3 separate regions of the Homo sapiens genome follow, and regions 1 and 3 are each linked to region 2. Evidence: fine-mapped expression QTL. A gene starts in region 2. Each other region holds a variant in brackets. All regions are shown on one strand. Distances are between the middles of the regions. Region 1 overlaps PDPR (pyruvate dehydrogenase phosphatase regulatory subunit). Region 2 holds the start of PDPR (pyruvate dehydrogenase phosphatase regulatory subunit). Region 3 overlaps PDPR (pyruvate dehydrogenase phosphatase regulatory subunit).

Region 1 (2,758 bases), 49 kb before region 2:
CAAGCGATTGTCCTGCCTCAGCCTCCCGCGAAGCTGGGATTATAGGCATGCGCTACCACGCCTAATTTTGTATTTTTAGTAGAGACAAGGTTTCTCCATGTTGGTCAGGCTGGTCTCGAATTCCCAACCTCAGGTGATCCGCCCGCCTCGGCATTCCAAAGTGCTGGGATTACAGGTGTGAGCCACCGCACCTGGCCTAAAATCCTTAAATCTTAAAAGACATTTTAAAGATTTTGCCCTCCACTTTTTGCCCATTCATTTAATCATCTGTTAAACACCAAACACCATGTGAGGTGTTGGAGTTTGGGAGAATTCGAGTCTTTCTCCGAGGGACTTACAGAAGGAGCAGGGCAGATAACCAAATAAAGACACATCAGAAACGGGTGTGTGAGGACCCCAAAGGGGCCATTCTCTTGGGGAAGGAAAGGCTCCACTGTGGGATGATGGTGGTCTTGGGCAGAGCTTTTGAAAGACAGGAGGGGCCAGGCACTGTGGCTCACACCTGTAATCCCAGCACTTTGGGAGGCTGAGGTGGGTTGATCACCTGAGGTCAGGAGTTCGAGACCAGCCTGACCAATGACCACCATAGTGAAACCTCGTCTCTACTAAAAATACAAAATTAGCCAGGCATGGTGGCGCATGCCTGTTATCCCAGCTACTCAGGAGGCTGAGGCAGAATTGCTTGAACCTGGGAGGCGGAGGTTGTGGTGAGCCGAGATCTCGCCACTGCACTCCAGCAGCCTAAGCAAGAAGAACAAAACTCCGTCTCAATCAATCAATCAAATGAAAGACAGGAGGTCTCTGTCAGGACAACTTGGGGGAGTGGGGGTCCATGTGATCCTCAATTTGCGACTTTCCACAAGCACAGGGGAGGGCTGCCAGGAGGCATTTTAGTGAGCAAATATGGGAGTGGGAGACCTCTCAGTGTGACTGGAAAGCAGGATTCGAGGTGAGATCCAGCTGTGGATGGCGAGCACGCACTCGGCTGCAGGACCCACATCACACGCAGCGCAGGCCGGAGCCCTGGGGCAGCGTGGCCTGCCACACCCTGGAGACCCTGGCTGGCCAGGCTAAGGACTGAGAGCTTTGTCTCACGACAAAGGGGAGTCCCTTGAGGGTTTCAAGGCAGTGAGTAAATTGACCTCCCCTGTTTTACAAAGACAACCCTGCAGAGGGAGGGGGG[A/GA]TGACATGAGAAGCAGGAAAATCAGTAAGAGATTGTTCTCGAAGTCAGGGCTGACAACCCTCTCTGCCACAGCAGCAGTGGTGGGGACAGTGAGGTCCGAACAGAGGAGAGGCACTGAGGAGACAGCCCTGTGAGGCTGGGTAATGAGCGGGAGGTGTAGGGAGAGGCGAGTGGGGAGACCAGGTGAGTCCCAGGTTTCTGGCGTGGTTGACTATTCCTGGAACTGGAATAGAAGGGGCTGATTTAGAAGACAAGATGAAGAGATTGTTGTAAACATGTTAACCTATGAGATTCTCAAAAGTACAAATACTTAAAAAAAAAAAAACTACTCAAAAATTACTTTGGGCCAGGCACAGTGGCTCACGCCTGTAATCCCAGCACTTTGGGAGGCCAAGGTGGGTGGATCACTTGAGGTTGGGGGTTTGAGACCAGCCTGGCCAACCTGGCGAAACCCCGTCTCTACGAAAATACAAAAATTAGCTGGGCATGGTGGCGCGTGCCTGTAATCCCAGCTACTCTGGAGGCTAAGGCAGGAAATCACTTGAACCTGGGAGTGGAGGTTGCAGTAAGCCAAGATCACACCACTGTACTCCAGCCTGGGCAAAAGAGCAAGACTCTGCCTCAAAAAAAAAAATTAGTGAACAGGTCAAGTCCAGGGACCAACTTGTGGATGGAAGCTGGTGTAGAAAAAGAGCACTGGTTGTTTCTCTCAGGGTTGTTTCCACAGGGTGAGAACACGACCCCCCTTGCTTTCCACACAAACCTGAGTGCACACGTGCCCGTGTGGAACATCAGGTGGCAGGTTCCTCCTGAGGTCAGCTGTAGGCAGAAGGCCGGTCGGAATTTCAGGAGGCGGGAAGCTTTTACCCCCAGCCACTCCAGCGCTGCAGGGAGGGTAAGATAAACACCTACATCTTCTCTACCCCCGTCCCCAAATCCTCCCTCACACTGGTACACACAGGGAGGTACACACTCTCCTCTGCACGCTGTTTATGCTTTGTGGTGGCAAACACATTTAAGTCACTACAGATGAAGAACATTTCACAAGCAGCCGTGCAAGAGTAGTTAAAATGTGTTTATTCATTTACAAACCCAGTAACATGAGAAGAAACTCAGTGGAAACCTTGCTTGGTGGAGACAGTGCACAGTGTTAGTGCCACATTCACAGGGGCAGAAATGCTCGGTCACCCTGTGCACCCAAAGTCACCCAGGATCTCTAGAAAAGATCCCACTTACTGAAGTGCCTCGGATGTCTTCAGGGCCAGATTGTAACTACACAGGAACAGGGAAGGGCTAAGCTGAACTGCAAATTGACAAACACAAACGATGAGTCACAGGACTCTACAGTAGTTACAATGGCATTTTTATATGTCCCAAGTGTTGACTGGAGAGTAAAGTGTTAACTGAGCTGCTAGAACACCCTTCACTGAAAGAGCTTTCTACCCCACGCCCATTGTTCCGAAGAAGGAGAGGCTATGTGGGGCGGATGGGAACCCACACACCGAGATGAACTTTTCTCTTTCTTCCAATCTGCACCCACCATCTGACATTCTGGAGTGTAAGGCACTAGAACCT
Region 2 (2,758 bases):
ACACAACATTTCCCACACTTGCCTCAGCAAAAGAACCACCTGGGACACTTGTTTAAAAATGACAGATTCCCACGGTCCACCTCGGCAGATTCTGATCCTGCCACTCCAGGGAGCTGTATTTTTCAACAAGTACACCAGGTGATCACGCAAGTTTAAGAAATTAACACAAGTTGGCCGAGCGCAGTGGCTCACGCCTGTAATCCCAGCACTTTGGGAGGCTGAGGCGGGAGAATCACGAGGTCAGGAGTTCGAGACCAGCCTGGCCAACATAGTGAAACCCCGTCTCTACTAAAAACACAAAAATTAGCCGGGCGTGGTGGCGCACACCTGTATTCCCAGCTACTTGGGAGGCTGAGGCAGGAGAATTGCTTGAACCCAGGAGGCAGAGGTTGCAGTGAGCCGAGATCGCGCCACTGCACTCCCGCCTGGGCGACAGAGTGAAACTCTGTCTCGGAAAAAAGAAAAAAAAAGAAAAAAGAAATTAACACAAGTCCCTGCCACTGGAAAAGCTTATCCGTCAGGCTGGCTCCTCCTCCACCACCAGACCCCATCCCGGTACATCACGTTTACATGCATGCGGAAAATGGGCTTGGAGATTCTTGATTCAAATCCGAGGTATCACACATCGGCCCCCAAAGGTCAAACATTAAGAAGGAAGCTTACTGCCCTGTCCCAGATTTTTCTAGGTGACTTCTTCCTCCGGACTCTGCAGCAGTCTTTAGTTCTAAAAGCACAAGCGGACCGCACGTCTCAACGCGGGAAAACAGTTCCATCTGCAGGGATGGAGGACCGGGCTAGACAAGCTGGAGTTGGCTCTGCGCCGCAGGGGTGTGCAAGCCCGAGACGGGGGAGCCCGAGGTCACCCCGGCCGCCCTGGCATCGGGGCTGAAGTGCAGGCTCCTGGAGGAGCGGTGCGCACGCCCAGGGGTAGCCGAGAACACAAGCCAAGGCACGAGCGGACAACCTTACGGGGACGAGTACTGGCGCCCGGACGCGACTTCGCGAGAGGCCAGGCGGAACCCACTGGAAGCGTGAGCTAGCGGGGACCACCCCCGGGCGAAACCAAAGGAGAAAGAGGGGAACCCAGGGGTCCCGGGGCGCTTAGGCCCGCGCGGACGGGGAGGCCAGAGTTGCCCCGAAGCTATCTCCTTACCTCACCGGTCCCCACGGGCTCCGCGCTCAGCTACAGCCCGGCGGGAGCAATGCGGCAGCCACAACAGTTGCCTGGGGTCGCCGCGGGCCGGAAAGCGGGGTTCGGGGATGGGAAGGGGGCGGGGCGAAGCGAGCAAAAAGTTCCGGGGAAGCCGAGACCGCGACCTTCCGCGCTTTACGGCCCCCGGGCAAGGGTACTGCCGGCGCGTGACCTCAGCAGCGCACGAGCGCGCCGTGACGCCTTCGCGGAGCCCCGCCCCTGCCACGTGGGCTTGTTTGGGTCTCGCGAGGCACCGCCCCCGCGGCCTCTTTGCCACCCTCAGAGGCGAGCTGTGGAAGCCTTGACTCTTAGGGCCGTTTTAGAACCGGGGCCTCGGACCGGCGGGGTTTCTGCACGTGGAACCGGAACATCTGAGATGATCGCAGGCCCTGTGGAGTGTGGGGAGCGCGGGAGTTCTTTCTTCCCTCGAGGCCCGTGCCAGGGCTTACTCCAAAGCCAGTGGGTCCCCAGTCCTAAGCCAAGCAGTCCCGGGGGAAAACGCTTCTCATCGCCGTGGGAGCGCGGATCTTGGAAGTGGCTCTGGGCTTTCTTGGGCGAGGCTCTCACAGAGTAGATCGGAAATCCATTCTGCTGGCCCGCCCCACCTCGGAGGACGGACTAACGGACCTGAGTTCCCGGCCCTATCTTACTCTTCTCAGCTTCTCAGCTTGGCTCAGCTCAGAGGAAGAGGAATCACTGAAGTCTCAGAGAAGTCTCCACTCATCCCTTCCTCACTGTCACATCAGCCTTTTCTTTCCTTCTAGAACTCATCACTGACTCAAGGATATAAGTTTGATGACTGTCTTTTCCACTGGTGTGACACGATCTCTGTCGACAGAACCTTAGTCTTATGCATAGCTTTATTCTCAGCACCCAGAACAGTGCCTGGCACCTCTTCCACTGAATATTATATGCATAAGGGTCTCATGCTGCAGCCACCATTGCATCTTGGGCCACACTATCCAGTTCCCGTTTGTTGGATTCAATACTGTCTCACCACACAAACCAATCTTGTGTTTTATTAATTTAAAAAAAATTTTTTTTTTGTAGAGATAGGCTCACTATGTTGCCTAGGCTGGGCCTGAACTCCTGGCCTCAAGTGATCCTTCCATCTCAGCCTCCCAAAGTCCTGGGATTACAGGCGTGAGCCACTGTGCCTGCCCCAATCTTGTGTTTTATTGCTGGCCACCTGTAGCCAGGCACTGTGCAGGATGATGGGATCCAGCAATGTACAAGAAAGAGGCGGTTTCTGCTCTTAGGGAGTGGCAGTCAAGTTCCAGGGACCCCTCTGTCACAAGGCCAGGCCACAGCCTACATAGTTTATACCCCATTTACTGGCCAGTCAAATCACACAAAGACAGCCCAGATGAGGTCTGCCAGACAGTGGACTGAAACTATGCCATAGGCTCCTGTGCTAGATAAATACTTCCATATTTTAGCTAGGATTGAATGCTTGGGGACACCTACCTGTCTAAAAAAAGAGAAAACGGCTGACCAATTTGAGACATTCTCGGGGAAGGCTTTCCTGATGCCCAGATGTGGCGATTTCATGAAAAATATCACAGG
Region 3 (2,758 bases), 27 kb before region 2:
CAAAAATGAGAATGTGACTTCTTACCCTTGTCGGGGGGAACAAAGTACTTTGGCCTCTCAAATCCATGTTTCTCCATCCACCTGGCTCCCTGTGCATCCAGCCGGTCGTAGAGAGGAGAGGTGCGTAACTGCCTACCGGTCTGGAAGTCCCAGCGGGGAACCTTCAGATCATACATCAAAGCTAGAAAAGACACGAGTAGTCTATCAAAGCCCAAGACACAGATTCTAGACCTGAGTAGCCCATGTCCACTAGACTCTGGAGTTGTTTCTATTCAAAAGAGCTTTCCAGGCTAACGTAGTTTTTTTTTTTTTTTAAGACGGAGTTTTGCTCTTGTTGTCCAGGCTGGAGTGCAGTGGCACAATCTCGGCTTACTGCAACCTCTGCCTCCTGGGTTTAAGCGATTCTCCTGCCTCAGCCTCCCGAGTAGCTGGGATTACAGGCACGTGTCACCGTGCCACACTAATTTTTGTATTTTTAGTAGAGACAGGGTTTCTCCATGTTGGTCAGGCTGGTCTCAAACTCCTGACCTCAGGTGATCTGCCCGCCCCAGCCTCCCGAAGTGCTGGGATTACAGGCGTGAGCCACTCTGCCCGGCCCAATTTCCAGGCTAATGTAGTCTAATTTTCAAAATTACCCAGTGTATCAGGCATGCTCCAGAAGGAAAAGACAATCCTGCCAAGCTGCTATCGTCCCTCCCTGGAGCTACGTGTCACGGCATGACTCGGCCTGTATTCACATTCAGCATTCCACATTAGTAGGTAGAAATGATGGCAGAAAGGTCAGGGTCCTAAACCTTACCAAGCTTCATAGCAGAGAAGAAGGTTACTAAGTGGGACACAGGTGGTAACAAAATGTGAAAAAATGGCATTCGATTCTTCATTGTGCCTGTGTTAGGATCTCAGACCTGTTACAGACATTTCCTCCCTGATAATTAACTCACTTCTGAAGTGAAAGGGTACATATTGCAGCTTGATTAGGTGGCTCTGAAATCTGAGAAGTTATATTGTATTGTACCAATGACATTATTCACACAACAAAGCTAGGGTCAGAATTCATTTCTCTTAGGCCGGGTGTGGTGGCTCACGTCTGTAAACCCAGCACTGAGAGGTCGAGGTGGGCGGATCACGAGGTCAGGAGTTCAAGATCAGCCTGACCAATGTGGTGAAACCCTGTCTCTACTAAAAATACATAAATTAGCC[A/C]GGCATGGTGGCAGGCGCCTGTAATCCCAGCTACTCGGGAGGCTGAGGCAGGAGAATTGTTTGAACCCAGGAGGCAGAGGTTGCAGTGAGCCGAAATCACGCCACGGCACTCCAGCCTGGGCAATAGAGCAAGACTGTCTCGGAAAAAAAAAAAATTCATTTCCCTTAAGGTCTAATCTTCAACAGCAATAAGTAAAAAAAGCCAGAAGAGTGTGATCTGTGGTCCCTGATCTCACACCATCCCAAACAAAAGGCACATCAAGGCTTGGGGAGGTTGGGAGACAGGAGAAGGAAGCCAGGTGGGGTTCTCTGCATGGTGACAATCTCTCCATCTCCTAGTACTTTCGGTTCTATCATCCCCTCCCCCATTTTCTTTTCTATTTTTTTTTTATTTTTTGTTGAGATGGAATCCCTCTCTATCACCCAGGCTAGAGTGCAGTGGTGAGATCTTGGCTCACTGCAACCTCCATCTCCCGGGTTCAAGTGATTGTCCTGCCTCAGCCTGCCAAGTAGCTGGGATCACAGGCACGTACCACCACATCTGGCTAAATTTTTGTATTTTTAGTAGAGACAGGGTTTCGCCATGTTGGTCAGGCCAGACCTCCTGACCTCAAGTGATCCGCCTGCCTCAGCCTCCCAACATGCTGGGATTACAGGCTTGAGCCACTGCGCCTGGCGCCTTCCCCATTTTCTATGTGCCTGCCACTTCTATTTCATGAGAATTGGCTACCAAAAGTGTCATATCACCAAGCAGAAGCTCAAGCTCAATTATGATTTGTACAGGTTCCAAAGTAACTATGGGTAGGGAAATTTAGGCTTATAATAGTTCAACTTTAAAACAAAAAACTTTGATTTTGTATTTTATTTTTTTGAGACAGGGTCTCAGTCCCACTGCCCAGGCTGGAGTACACAGTGGCACCATCATGGCTCACTGCAGCCTCAACTTCCCCAGCTCAGGTGATTCGCCTACCTCAGCCTCCCAAGTAGCTGGGACTTCAGGTGTGTGCCACTAGGCATGGCTAATTTTTTGGTTTTGGTTTTAGTAGAGACAGGGTTTCGCTACGTTGCCTAGGCTGGTCTCAAACTCCTGACCTCAAGTGACCTACCTCCCTCAACGTCCCAAAGTGCTGGGATTACAGGCATGAGCCACCACACCCAGCCAAGTTCAACATTTTAACCAAAATATTTGCTAAAATTAAAGAACCTTAGCAGTTAAACATATTGCTGTTAGGTCCTTCATCTCCATGGATGTACATCCTCTTCCCAGGCCAAAAGTGAGCACTCAGGCATTAAAGGCCATCCAGAGTCCTCACCAACAATGTTGTTCAACTACCAAACTAACAGTTTACTTGCAACCAAGAATGGTGGTCAGAGCCAACACAGAAACTTAGTCCTGAGCATAAGTATGCCCAAAATATTTAGATACCATTTGGCAAAGTCTGAGAACAGCTCCTCAGTACAGGAAAATGAAATTACAACTTGAACCCACGTGGTTTGGTTCAATTCCTGATACAAAAGCTTTCTAAGGGCTTCCTAGAAAATAAATCAGAGATCAAGG

Evidence for each region. PIP is the estimated chance that this variant, and not a neighbour inherited with it, causes the effect. A credible set is the group of variants that fine-mapping cannot tell apart.
Region 1: its variant is the best candidate, but not a certain one, in a credible set for the expression of PDPR in whole blood (INTERVAL, PIP 0.59).
Region 3: its variant is the best candidate, but not a certain one, in a credible set for the expression of PDPR in whole blood (Lepik 2017, PIP 0.76).

Annotation. Positions count from the first base shown.
Region 1 is chr16:70,162,017-70,164,774 of GRCh38, reverse strand. It overlaps PDPR (pyruvate dehydrogenase phosphatase regulatory subunit), which reads right to left. Exons shown (of 19, transcript NM_017990.5): 19 at 2,238-2,758. The region is part of intron 1 of LOC400541 (a long non-coding RNA gene); the gene reads left to right. Among named protein-coding and RNA genes, the nearest start is that of CLEC18C, 10 kb to the left of the region's middle. The variant A/GA (reference allele first, on the strand shown) is at 1,184.
Region 2 is chr16:70,112,836-70,115,593 of GRCh38, reverse strand. PDPR (pyruvate dehydrogenase phosphatase regulatory subunit) reads right to left here and starts at 1,262. Exons shown (of 19, transcript NM_017990.5): 1 at 1,154-1,262; 2 at 664-773. RefSeq lists enhancers at 1-728, 1,249-1,298.
Region 3 is chr16:70,139,657-70,142,414 of GRCh38, reverse strand. PDPR (pyruvate dehydrogenase phosphatase regulatory subunit) reads right to left here. Exons shown (of 19, transcript NM_017990.5): 12 at 26-181. Among named protein-coding and RNA genes, the nearest start is that of PDPR, 27 kb to the right of the region's middle. The variant A/C (reference allele first, on the strand shown) is at 1,201.